Linked DNA regions of Homo sapiens. The protein of the gene in region 1 purifies or fractionates together with the protein of each later gene. This does not show direct contact. Each region holds a gene or a part of one and is shown on either strand. Other genes may lie near its edges.

What was found.
Region 2: the proteins of LGALS9B (region 1) and LNPEP purify together in Homo sapiens (affinity purification with mass spectrometry; one large-scale study listed by BioGRID and IntAct). This does not show direct contact.

Annotation. Positions count from the first base shown.
Region 1 is NC_000017.11:20,460,245-20,465,579, forward strand, and holds part of LGALS9B (galectin-9B), read right to left. Parts: intron 200-5,335; coding exon 108-199; intron 1-107.
Region 2 is NC_000005.10:97,033,242-97,037,376, forward strand, and holds part of LNPEP (leucyl-cystinyl aminopeptidase), read left to right. Parts: 3' UTR 1-4,135. UniProt on the Homo sapiens protein: Release of an N-terminal amino acid, cleaves before cysteine, leucine as well as other amino acids. Degrades peptide hormones such as oxytocin, vasopressin and angiotensin III, and plays a role in maintaining homeostasis during pregnancy.

The DNA of each region.
Region 1 (5,335 bases):
GCACGTGAGCTTGGATGTTGTTGTTTGAACTAACCGAGGCTCACAGGCACAGTGGCTTTACTAAGGGACGAGGCTGGAGTGAAACGTTTCCATCCATATACACACACCTGGTTCCACTGGAGCTGAGAACGGCCCCATTGACAGTGATCTGAAATCCGTCCTGGAGACCCCCTTGGATAGTCCCAGAAAAGGGGACGGCCTGCAGGGAGAAGACATGGGGCCTCAGTCAGGTGGCCGGCCTCCTGTTTGCTCCCCTTCGGGGCTAGTCAGTGGCTGGCCTGGGTGTGACCGCACCATGCGAGGGGCTAGGGTGCAGCTGTGACCAGGACAGAAGGAGTCTCAGCCCCACGGGTCTTAGGGTCCTGTGTGGAGGCAGACACAAATCCAATTAGTTACTCAGACAGTCTAAGCTTGTGATAAGGAGAATCCTGGCCCTGAGAGGACGCGACAGGGAGCTGAGCTTGTGTGAGAGTCTGAGAGGCAGCGGAGGCCACACCAGGAACGCTCCAGGCGGAAGGCCTTCCTTCCAGGCAGGGAAGTAGCAGGCAGACGCCCTGGGCTGGTAAGGAACTAGGTAGCAATGGGGCTGCTGGACCCCATGCCAAGCTCCCAGCAAAGTGCCCAGCGCCCTGGCTGGGGACTCAGGAGGCCCAAGGGAACAAAGGGACCCATCAAGGGTCTGCAGGTTCCACCGAGAGGGTCACCAGAGAGTGTCAAGAAGAAGGCATGCACCTCTCCCCACCACCACCATATAACAATGGCCACCATGACCTTTGCCCTCCTGACCACCTTCAGCAGAGCCTCTTCCCAGATGCCCTCCGCAGCCCCGAGCCCCAGCGTAGTTTCCCCACCCATCCCAGGCCCCGTGGGCAAGCACTTTGTCAAATTCTCTCTTCCGCGCCTCTTTAAAGGAGCTATGGGCCATGGTGAGGCATGCATCGTTTTGGAGTCAGGCGGACTCCAGGTCTGAATCCTAACTCTGCTGCTCCTGACCTGAGTGGCCTTGGGAAGCCTATTTCACCTCTCTTTGCCTCAGTTTCCTCATCTGTAAAATAGGAAGGTGTTTCTCCTACTGCATATGATTGATGATTTTGTGAGAAAAAGCCTGTGGTAGAAGAGACTGGCACAGAGGAGACGCTTCACCACTGTCACCCACCCCCACCTTGGTCTCTCTGAGCAAAATTCACAAACTGGTACTTCCAATCTTCAAAGTTTATTCCGAAATGCCTCATATCCGGTGTGGTTCTATAACCTGCATTAAAGCACAGTTCTATCTCATGGCTGATTTTCACATTCTTCAAGTTTTTAATGTCTTCTCTAATATCTCCTTTAGGTCAATTTCCTACACAAATTAAATGCCTAAAGAAGCCAGGCAGGTGATGTGTATGAGTCAGATGGCCAGGTAGGGAGTGGTGGGGACTGTGGCAAAGTAGACGTCACACGCCTCATCTAAAAAGTCAACATCTTCTCAGCACTAACCAATGATTACCATCTGGGCTTAGTATTGGCAGAACTTCCAAATTTTTAAGATGAGACAGAAACCTGAATTTTTTTTTTTTTTTTTTTTTGTAAAACTTTCTAATTTCTTGGGGGAAATCTTTTGTCAAAAAGGATTATGTAAAAGTTCCTGACTGGGCACAGTGGCTCACATCTATAATCCCAGCATTTTGGGAGGCTGAGGTAAAACAATCACTTGAGCCCAGGAGTTTTAGGCCAGCCTGGGCAACATAGTGGGACCCCCATCTCTACAAAAAATAAAAAAATTGGCCAGATGTGGTGGTGCACACCTTTAACCCCAGTTACTTGGGAGGCTGAGGTGGGAGGATCACTTGAGCCTGGGAGGTCGAGGCTGTAGTGAGCCACGATTGCACCACTGCACTCCAGCCTGGGCAACAAAGCGAGACCCTGTCTCAAATGAAACTCCCCAAATTCCCACATTGTAGAGATACACAATGAAATATTTACAATGGAATGAAATCTCTGGATTTGCTTCCGCATATCTGAAGGTGGGAAGAGAAGCAAGCGAGGGAGGGTACAGGATGAAGCAAGATAGGCCTGAGTTGATCATTGTTGGAGCAGAGTGATGGGTGTGTGTTGTTGATGGTACAATTCTCTCTGCATGTTTGAATTTCCTATAATAACAAGTTAAAGTAAACACTGTGTAGGCCAAACAGAAAACACCCACTAGCCAAATTCAGCCTACTGGTCACTGCTTTCTGGTCTGTATTGTTGAGTTATGTGACCACACAGCACCCTGGGAAACCCATCCTAGCTCAGTGTACACACCTGGCACCGTGAAAGCCCCAGGCAATCTGAGATCTGATCCAGATAGTCTCTGCTCCCCATGGATTTGAGGGGGTTGTCTTTTCTTGCCCCTCAGGTCAGGTCTGAACTCTGCCATTAAATACTTTGGTGACCTCAAGCAAATCACAGCTTCTCTGTGTCTCTGACTTCTCTTTCTTGTCCCTGTCTACACCAGCGGTGTGGGGGAAGGAGAGTCAGCCTGATCCAGTTATGGGCCAGCATGGGCTAGGATTGGGAAGCCTGTTGTCCCTGAAACACGTCTGTGGAAGATTTTTCCCCTTGCCTGTTTGTGGCAGCCTGTGATTCCCTCCAGAGCCTTTCATTCTATCATGAGAGACAACGCTGAAAATACACACCCTCCTGGGAAGCATGCGGCCTCCACTCAAGCGTATTCACACCACAGCACCTAGAATTGAAGGCAGAGAGTGATGGACATGGGCTCGCAAGTCCACACAAGGCTTAACTAAGGAAGCCAGGAGGGAGAAAGACCAAGTACAGGTCATGGGGGCAGGACAGGGCAGGCTAATCTCCAAGGCAACAAGTTCCCCAAAAAAGTTCTGTGAGGTTTCAAAATGTCTTAAATGGCACCCCCAATTTCTGAAAAACAAGATTATTTTATTATTTATTTTATTTTATTTTATTTTGAGATGGGTTCTCACTCTGTTGCCCAGGCTGGAGTGCAGTGAGGAGTGTGATCATGGATCACTGCAGCCTCCACCTCCTGTGCTCAAGTAATCCTCCCACCTCAGCCTCCCGAGCAGCTGAGACCAAATAAGTGCAGGCCACCAAGCCATACCCCACTAATTTTCAAATTTTTTTGAAAAGACCAGGTCTCGATATGTTGCCAGGGCTGGTCTTGAACACCTGGGCTCAAGTGATCCTTCTGTCTTGGCCTCCCAAAGGGCCGGGATTTCAGACATGAACCACTATGCCTGTCCTGAAAAATGAGATTTTAAATTGAATATCATCCAACAAACAAGGTTATTCATTGCAGCATTATAACACAAAGGATTATAAAGCAAAGCATTGGAAGGAGCCTAAAAGTCTTCCAACAGGGAAAAGGTGAAATAAATTAGGGTATTTCCATATAATAGAATAAGTTCTGTGTAGCTTTCAAAAGAAAAGAAAAAGAAGACGGAAAAGAAAAAAGAAAAAGAGGAAAACTCTGAGCACCGATATGGAATAATGCCATTTGCATAAAAAGTGGGTAGGGGAAGGCTATGGACTTGCATTTATTTATTTATAGATAAAATATCTCTGGAAGGATTTACAAGAAACTTATAATACTGGTTATCAGTGGGCGACCCCCCAGAAACATCCACATTCGAATCCCCGGAAACTGTGAATATGTTGTAGAAGGGACTTTGCAGATGTGATTAAATGCATAATTTTGGCATGGGGAGATTGTCTTGGATTATACAGGTGGTCCCAATGTAATCACAAAGGTCCTATAAAAGGGAGCAGGAGGATCAAAGTCAGAGGTAAGAGATGTGACAACAGAAGCAAGAAGCTGGTTTTGGGGGTTTTGTTTGTTTGTTTGTTGTGTTTTTTTTTTTTTTTTTTTTTTGAGACAGGATCTCATTCTGTCACCCAGGCTGGAGTGCAGTGGCATGATCTCAGCTCACTGCAGCCTCCACTTCCCCAGGCTCACGCGATCCTCCCACCTCAGCCTCCCAGGTAGCTGGGACTACAGGCATGCACCACCATGCCTGGCTAATTTTTGTCTATTCTTTGTAGAGACACAGTCTCAGTTTGTTGCCCAGGCTGGTCTCCAACTCCTGGGCTAAAGAGATCCTCCTGCCTCAGCTTCCCAAAGTGCTGGGATTACAGGCATGAGCCACTGCACCCAGACAAAGCTGCTGGTTTTAAAGATGGCAGGAGGGGTCATAAGCCAAGGCAGGCAGGCAGCCTCTAGAAGCTGGAAAAGCAAAAGAAACAGATTCTCCCCTGGAGCCTCCGGAAGGAAACAACCTTGCTCACACGATGATTTTAACATCTGCCCTCCAGAATCATTAAGAAAGCAAATTTGTTGTTTTAAGATTGGCCAGCCAAGGCTGCTGTGGAATTTAGATCCGTGTGTCCAGGAAACCCAGGAAAACAACTGGACCTACTTTTGCTCCGTAGGGTGCAGGAGGATGGATTTTTGTGTTGGATTTGTGGTCCCATGGGCCTGGGCTCGCCTCCCAGCTCTGTACACTAGCAATTCTGACACTGGCCAAGTCACTTGACCTGCCTGTGCCCCACTTCCCTCCTCTGAATGGCAGGGCAGTAACACCACCCGACAGTGTTCTGGAGAGGACTGGGTGCAATGCTGTGTGCTGAGTCCCTGGCTGGCAGCATTCTGGAGAGGACTGGGTGGAATGCCATGTGCTGAGTCCCTGGCTGGCAGCGTTCTGAGAGGACGGGGTGCGATGCCATGTGCTGAGCCTCTGGCCCATGTCGGCCTTGACAGTGCAGCTCTTTGCATGGAACAAATCAATCCCTCTGCTGAGTCAGAACTTGCTCTCTGTTCCTGGTTGTGCCCAGAGACCGGGGACTTTCCCTCTTCTTCCTACCTGGAAGTCAAAGCAGAGCTGAGCCCTGCGGACCAGAATGTGGGCAGCCTCATTCTGGACTCAGCATCACCAGAGGACACCAAGGCCTGGCCCCAGGAGTAGGGAGCTCAGCCTGGCTGGCCGAGACTGCCTGCCAGCTGGAGCCAGTACGTGGCCCTTAGCCAAAGTGCCCTGTTGCCTCAGAGGCTCCACGGTCCTGCTGGCCACCTTTCATGACACTTTGATTTTAGCCTTCTGACCTCCAACACTGTAAGCACAAATGTGTTGTTTTAAGTTGGCCAGCTAAGGCTGCTGTGGCATTTGGATCCATGTGTGTCCATGAGGGCTCTGGGGGTGACCGGGAACATTTATCCTCACAGCAACCCCGGCCACTTTTACAGATGAGGAAACTGAGGCACAGAAAAGTTCAGTCACTTGCCCAAAGCTACACAGCTGGTCGGCAACAGAGCTGGGATTTGAACCCCAGCACCCACGCT
Region 2 (4,135 bases), on another chromosome or scaffold:
TGCTGGGCAGTAGCTAACAGAGTAGTTGTCAAGTGGCGTATTTGAGGTGAGGGGGAGGGACGGGGAAGGTAGGAAAATGCACTTAATGTATATACATGTTTTTACTACTACATTGTATTAATTCATCGGGTGCCCAGACTGAAAGGTACCTAATGAACCATGGAGTTCCGGATGTATAACAGTCTCCTCTTTTCCCTTTCCCTTATTGCCCATGTGGGCAATACTTAAGAGTAGTTTGGGTTTATTGAAGATTTTTTGCTAGGAGAGAGAAAATTTTTTGCTAGGAGAGGTTTCAAGGTAAGAGTATATACTTTAAACATGTATATAAATGTTTTTGCTACTTTTCTGTCACTACCTTTCTTACCTTGTCCTTTACATGGATATATGAAGAAAATTGAGGTTCAGCCTGTAGCAGCTCTCCTCTTCTGCCCTTCCCTTAGATTGTCTGTGTGGGCAGGTGTCTAAGAGAGTAGTTGATTAGCTTCAGGGATTCTTTGGTGGGTGTTGGGGTATATACTTTTGTATATGTATGTACATATTTTTATTTCTTTATTATAGTGTTTCATTGGGTACCCGGTCCTTCACTTGGATGTGTAGGTTCCTAATGAGCCATGGAGTTATGGATGTATAACAATCTGTTCTCCCTTTACCCTTTTAATGTATATGGGCAATAATTTTAAAGTAGTTTGGATTTTTTTAAGTTTTGAGGGGTGGGAGGGGTCTAAGGCAGAATATATCCTTTTTAAAAATGTATATATACTTTTCATTAACTATATTGTATTATTTCATGCTGTACCCAGTCCATTGCTTGGACTTACGGGTACCTAATGAAACGTGGAGGTCCGGATGTATGAAAATCTCCTCTTTTCCCCTTTCCTTATTGCCTCTGTAGGCAATAATTATAGAGTAGTATAGATGGTTTTTCTTTTTTATCCATCTGCCTATCTCCAGGAGGATGGGGTGTGCACTTTTAGAAATGTATATAAATGTTCTTGCTCCTTTTTCCTGTTACTTCATTGTGTGCCAAGGCCTTTCCATGGATACTTAGGTACGTAATGAAAATTGAGGTTCATTCTATGAAAAAATCTCCCCTTCTCCCCTTCCCTTATTGCCTGTCTTGGCAATGGCCAGTAGAGTAGTTATTTAAGGGATTTTGTTTTTTTGTTTTTTTGTTTTTTTTTTGGTAGGGGAGGTGGGGAATTTCTGGGTTTGTCTTTTTTTTAATGTATATAAAAGTTTGCTAGTTGTTGTTATTGTTGTTCTTTCACTCTCAACACAGTTTTTTGTTTGGAGTTGTAGGAATCAAATGTAATGAGGGACCCAGACCCGAGAGTGTGGTAAATATTCTTTGCCTTCCTCAGAGCCTGTATACACAAGCAAGTAGTATGTGAGCACTACAGGGCTTGGGTTTTGGTTTTTTGCTTTTGAGGGTTTTAATGAGGAGTGGGATTGTTGAGAGGAAAAGGCAAGATATATAATTTTTTTAATGTATATAAATGTTTTGCTCCTTTTTGATGTTAACTTCATTTTGAATCTGGTCCTTTGTATGACCACTTAGGTACTTAATAGTAATAAAGTTGAGATTGACTCTATGAAAAATATCCCATACTCCCCATCCCTCATTGCCTAGGGGGCAATGGTAGAATAGATGTTTGGTTTCTTTTGGGGGTGTCTGAGTGTATATGTGTGTGTATATACACACAAGAACACACATATTTATATACTATACACACACATTTTAATGTATATAAATATTTGCTACATTCTGTGTGTTATATAATGTGGTACCCAGTCCTCTGCTGGGACATGGATGTACATAATGAAACATGGAGGTCCAGACGTATGATAACTCTCCTGTTTCCCTTCCCTCATTGCCTACAGGGGCAATAGTTTCATATCTTGGGTTTTTTATTGTTTAATTTTTTTTTATGGGGAGGGGTTCTTTGGGTGGGTAATAGTCAGGGGGAAAGGACAGTGTCTATACTTTTTAAAGATGTATATAAATGTTTCATGTTATTGGTTTTGTACCTAGTCCTTTGCATGGATATATAGGTACCTAATGAAAATCGAGGATCAGTGTATGACAAATCTCCCATCCTCCCCTTTCCTTATTGCCTGTGTCGGCAATAGGAAGTAGAATAGTTGTGTGTTGTTTACTTACTTGTCTGTTTTAGAGAGATTTCTATTTTTGGTAGGGGAATATTCTTAATATGTTTTCATATCTTTATTTCATTTTGTAGTCTTTTGCATGGCTATGTAGGGACCTAATGAAAGTCGAGTTTCATAATATGACAGCTCACTTCTTTTCCTACATATTTCCTCACTTAGCAGTAGCTAGTGTAGTTATTTTGTGGTTATTTTATTTCATTCTCTAGGATCTATTCCATTAAGGATGCAAGTGTGTAGATGCATATATATCATTTGCTTCTTTCTTCCGCCATTATTTTCCTTTAACACTTAGTCCCTTGCAAGGGGTCTGACTATACCTAACAAAAATAAAGACCTACTAAATCCCTGCCATCTGGCTGGAAGGTGTAGCAGTGTATTAATGTAACTAATAGCAACAGGTGTGCAGCAGATAAGACAGGAGAAGACACTCAGCTATGGTTGAGTTGTGAAAGCTAATTAGATCCAGCATTTCTTATGTTGATTCAGATTGAATGAGGTAGTGAAAAGGGACCTGTGCTTTTGTAAATTCTAGAAAGGCAAGAGGACAATATTGAATAAAGCTGTGTTTAAACTTCATTGCTCATATATCTTTTAGTAACTGGTAAACCGGCGAAGCTGATAAGCCAATAAGAGTGCTGTCTAGAACGCATTTGCAAACCGTTAAGAGTAGCTTCTTTTTGAGGCCTGGACTTCTGATTCATCTATAGAAGTCTATTATGATTCCATCAATTGCATAGCTTGTGTACCTGGTAGAAATTGTGTCTTGGAATGACCCTTTCGAGTTATTGACATGGCTCTGATGAATAGAACATGAGCCCCAAAACTAAATCCAAAAGGAATTTTCTATCTTTCATCCCCCACATGTGGCAAGACAAGTTGGCCCTTTCTTACCCAGAGGTCTTTTGTGTGACTGCATCTTTCTCCTCCGTTCTCCATTGTGTGCTTTCCATTTTGTCTTTAGTGCCTATACTGTTAGGTGTTTTCTTCACTGGCATTCACAAATTTAAGCCATTGCTGCCTCATTAGCCTTGTATTTTGTGTGCATATCATGTATCCAGACCTGTATGTTCGCTTTAAGCATTCTTATATCACACTGTCTCCTCATCTACCATATGGTAAATGTTAAAACTCCACATTTGTCTGCATCAGGGAAAATGCATGGGCACACATCCTCCCTCCCTCCCTCTCTGCTCTCCTCCCTTCCTTCAGGCCTCTTAGCATTGTTTGTTTTCCCATTTCTGATACTACTACTCCATGCTGAAGATTTGCCATATTACTATTTTGGAAACATTGAGTGATAGAACTCCTAGAAAATTTGCAAAGAAATGTTACATACTGTATATCAAACTCTCAGATTCTAGTGTTGAAAAAGTAGCCTATACTTTGCTATTACTTATACCTGCTGCCATAGAAAAAAATAAGTTTATTCATGACACATTTACATTTGATCATAAATAAAAGAAAAAAGGGCACCTTTTTGGAGTTAGTCATGGTAGTCATTAGTGATATTTCTGAACAGTTCTTAATTTAAAATACTTCAAAGGAAGTAAAGGTCATGGCTTAGCTGAAGGAAATGCTCCAGAAATTGGACTGTGTAAACCATCAGTACAATAATACGCTGTGTATGTATGTGTATATAAAATGAGAATTATGGCATAATTGGAGCATTTGCATTAATCAACAAACTCACATTGAGACAAAACTTAGTTTTACAGCTGTCTTGATTAAAGCCAAGTGTTCCATGTTGCTGTGAAGAATAGCCTCTTTCAAATACTTTGGAAAGTAGTTACTTGGAAACTTGTAAAGGTATTACATTTTTATATTTAAACACCTATAGAGATCTTCAATTCCTTGAGTCTGAGCTTGTGGGTGGAATTCTAAATTTGTATCATAATCTGTCTTTTGTGAAACATTTTGAAAATATGTATATATAATATTGTATATGCAAATTGTGTTGTTTCACTTG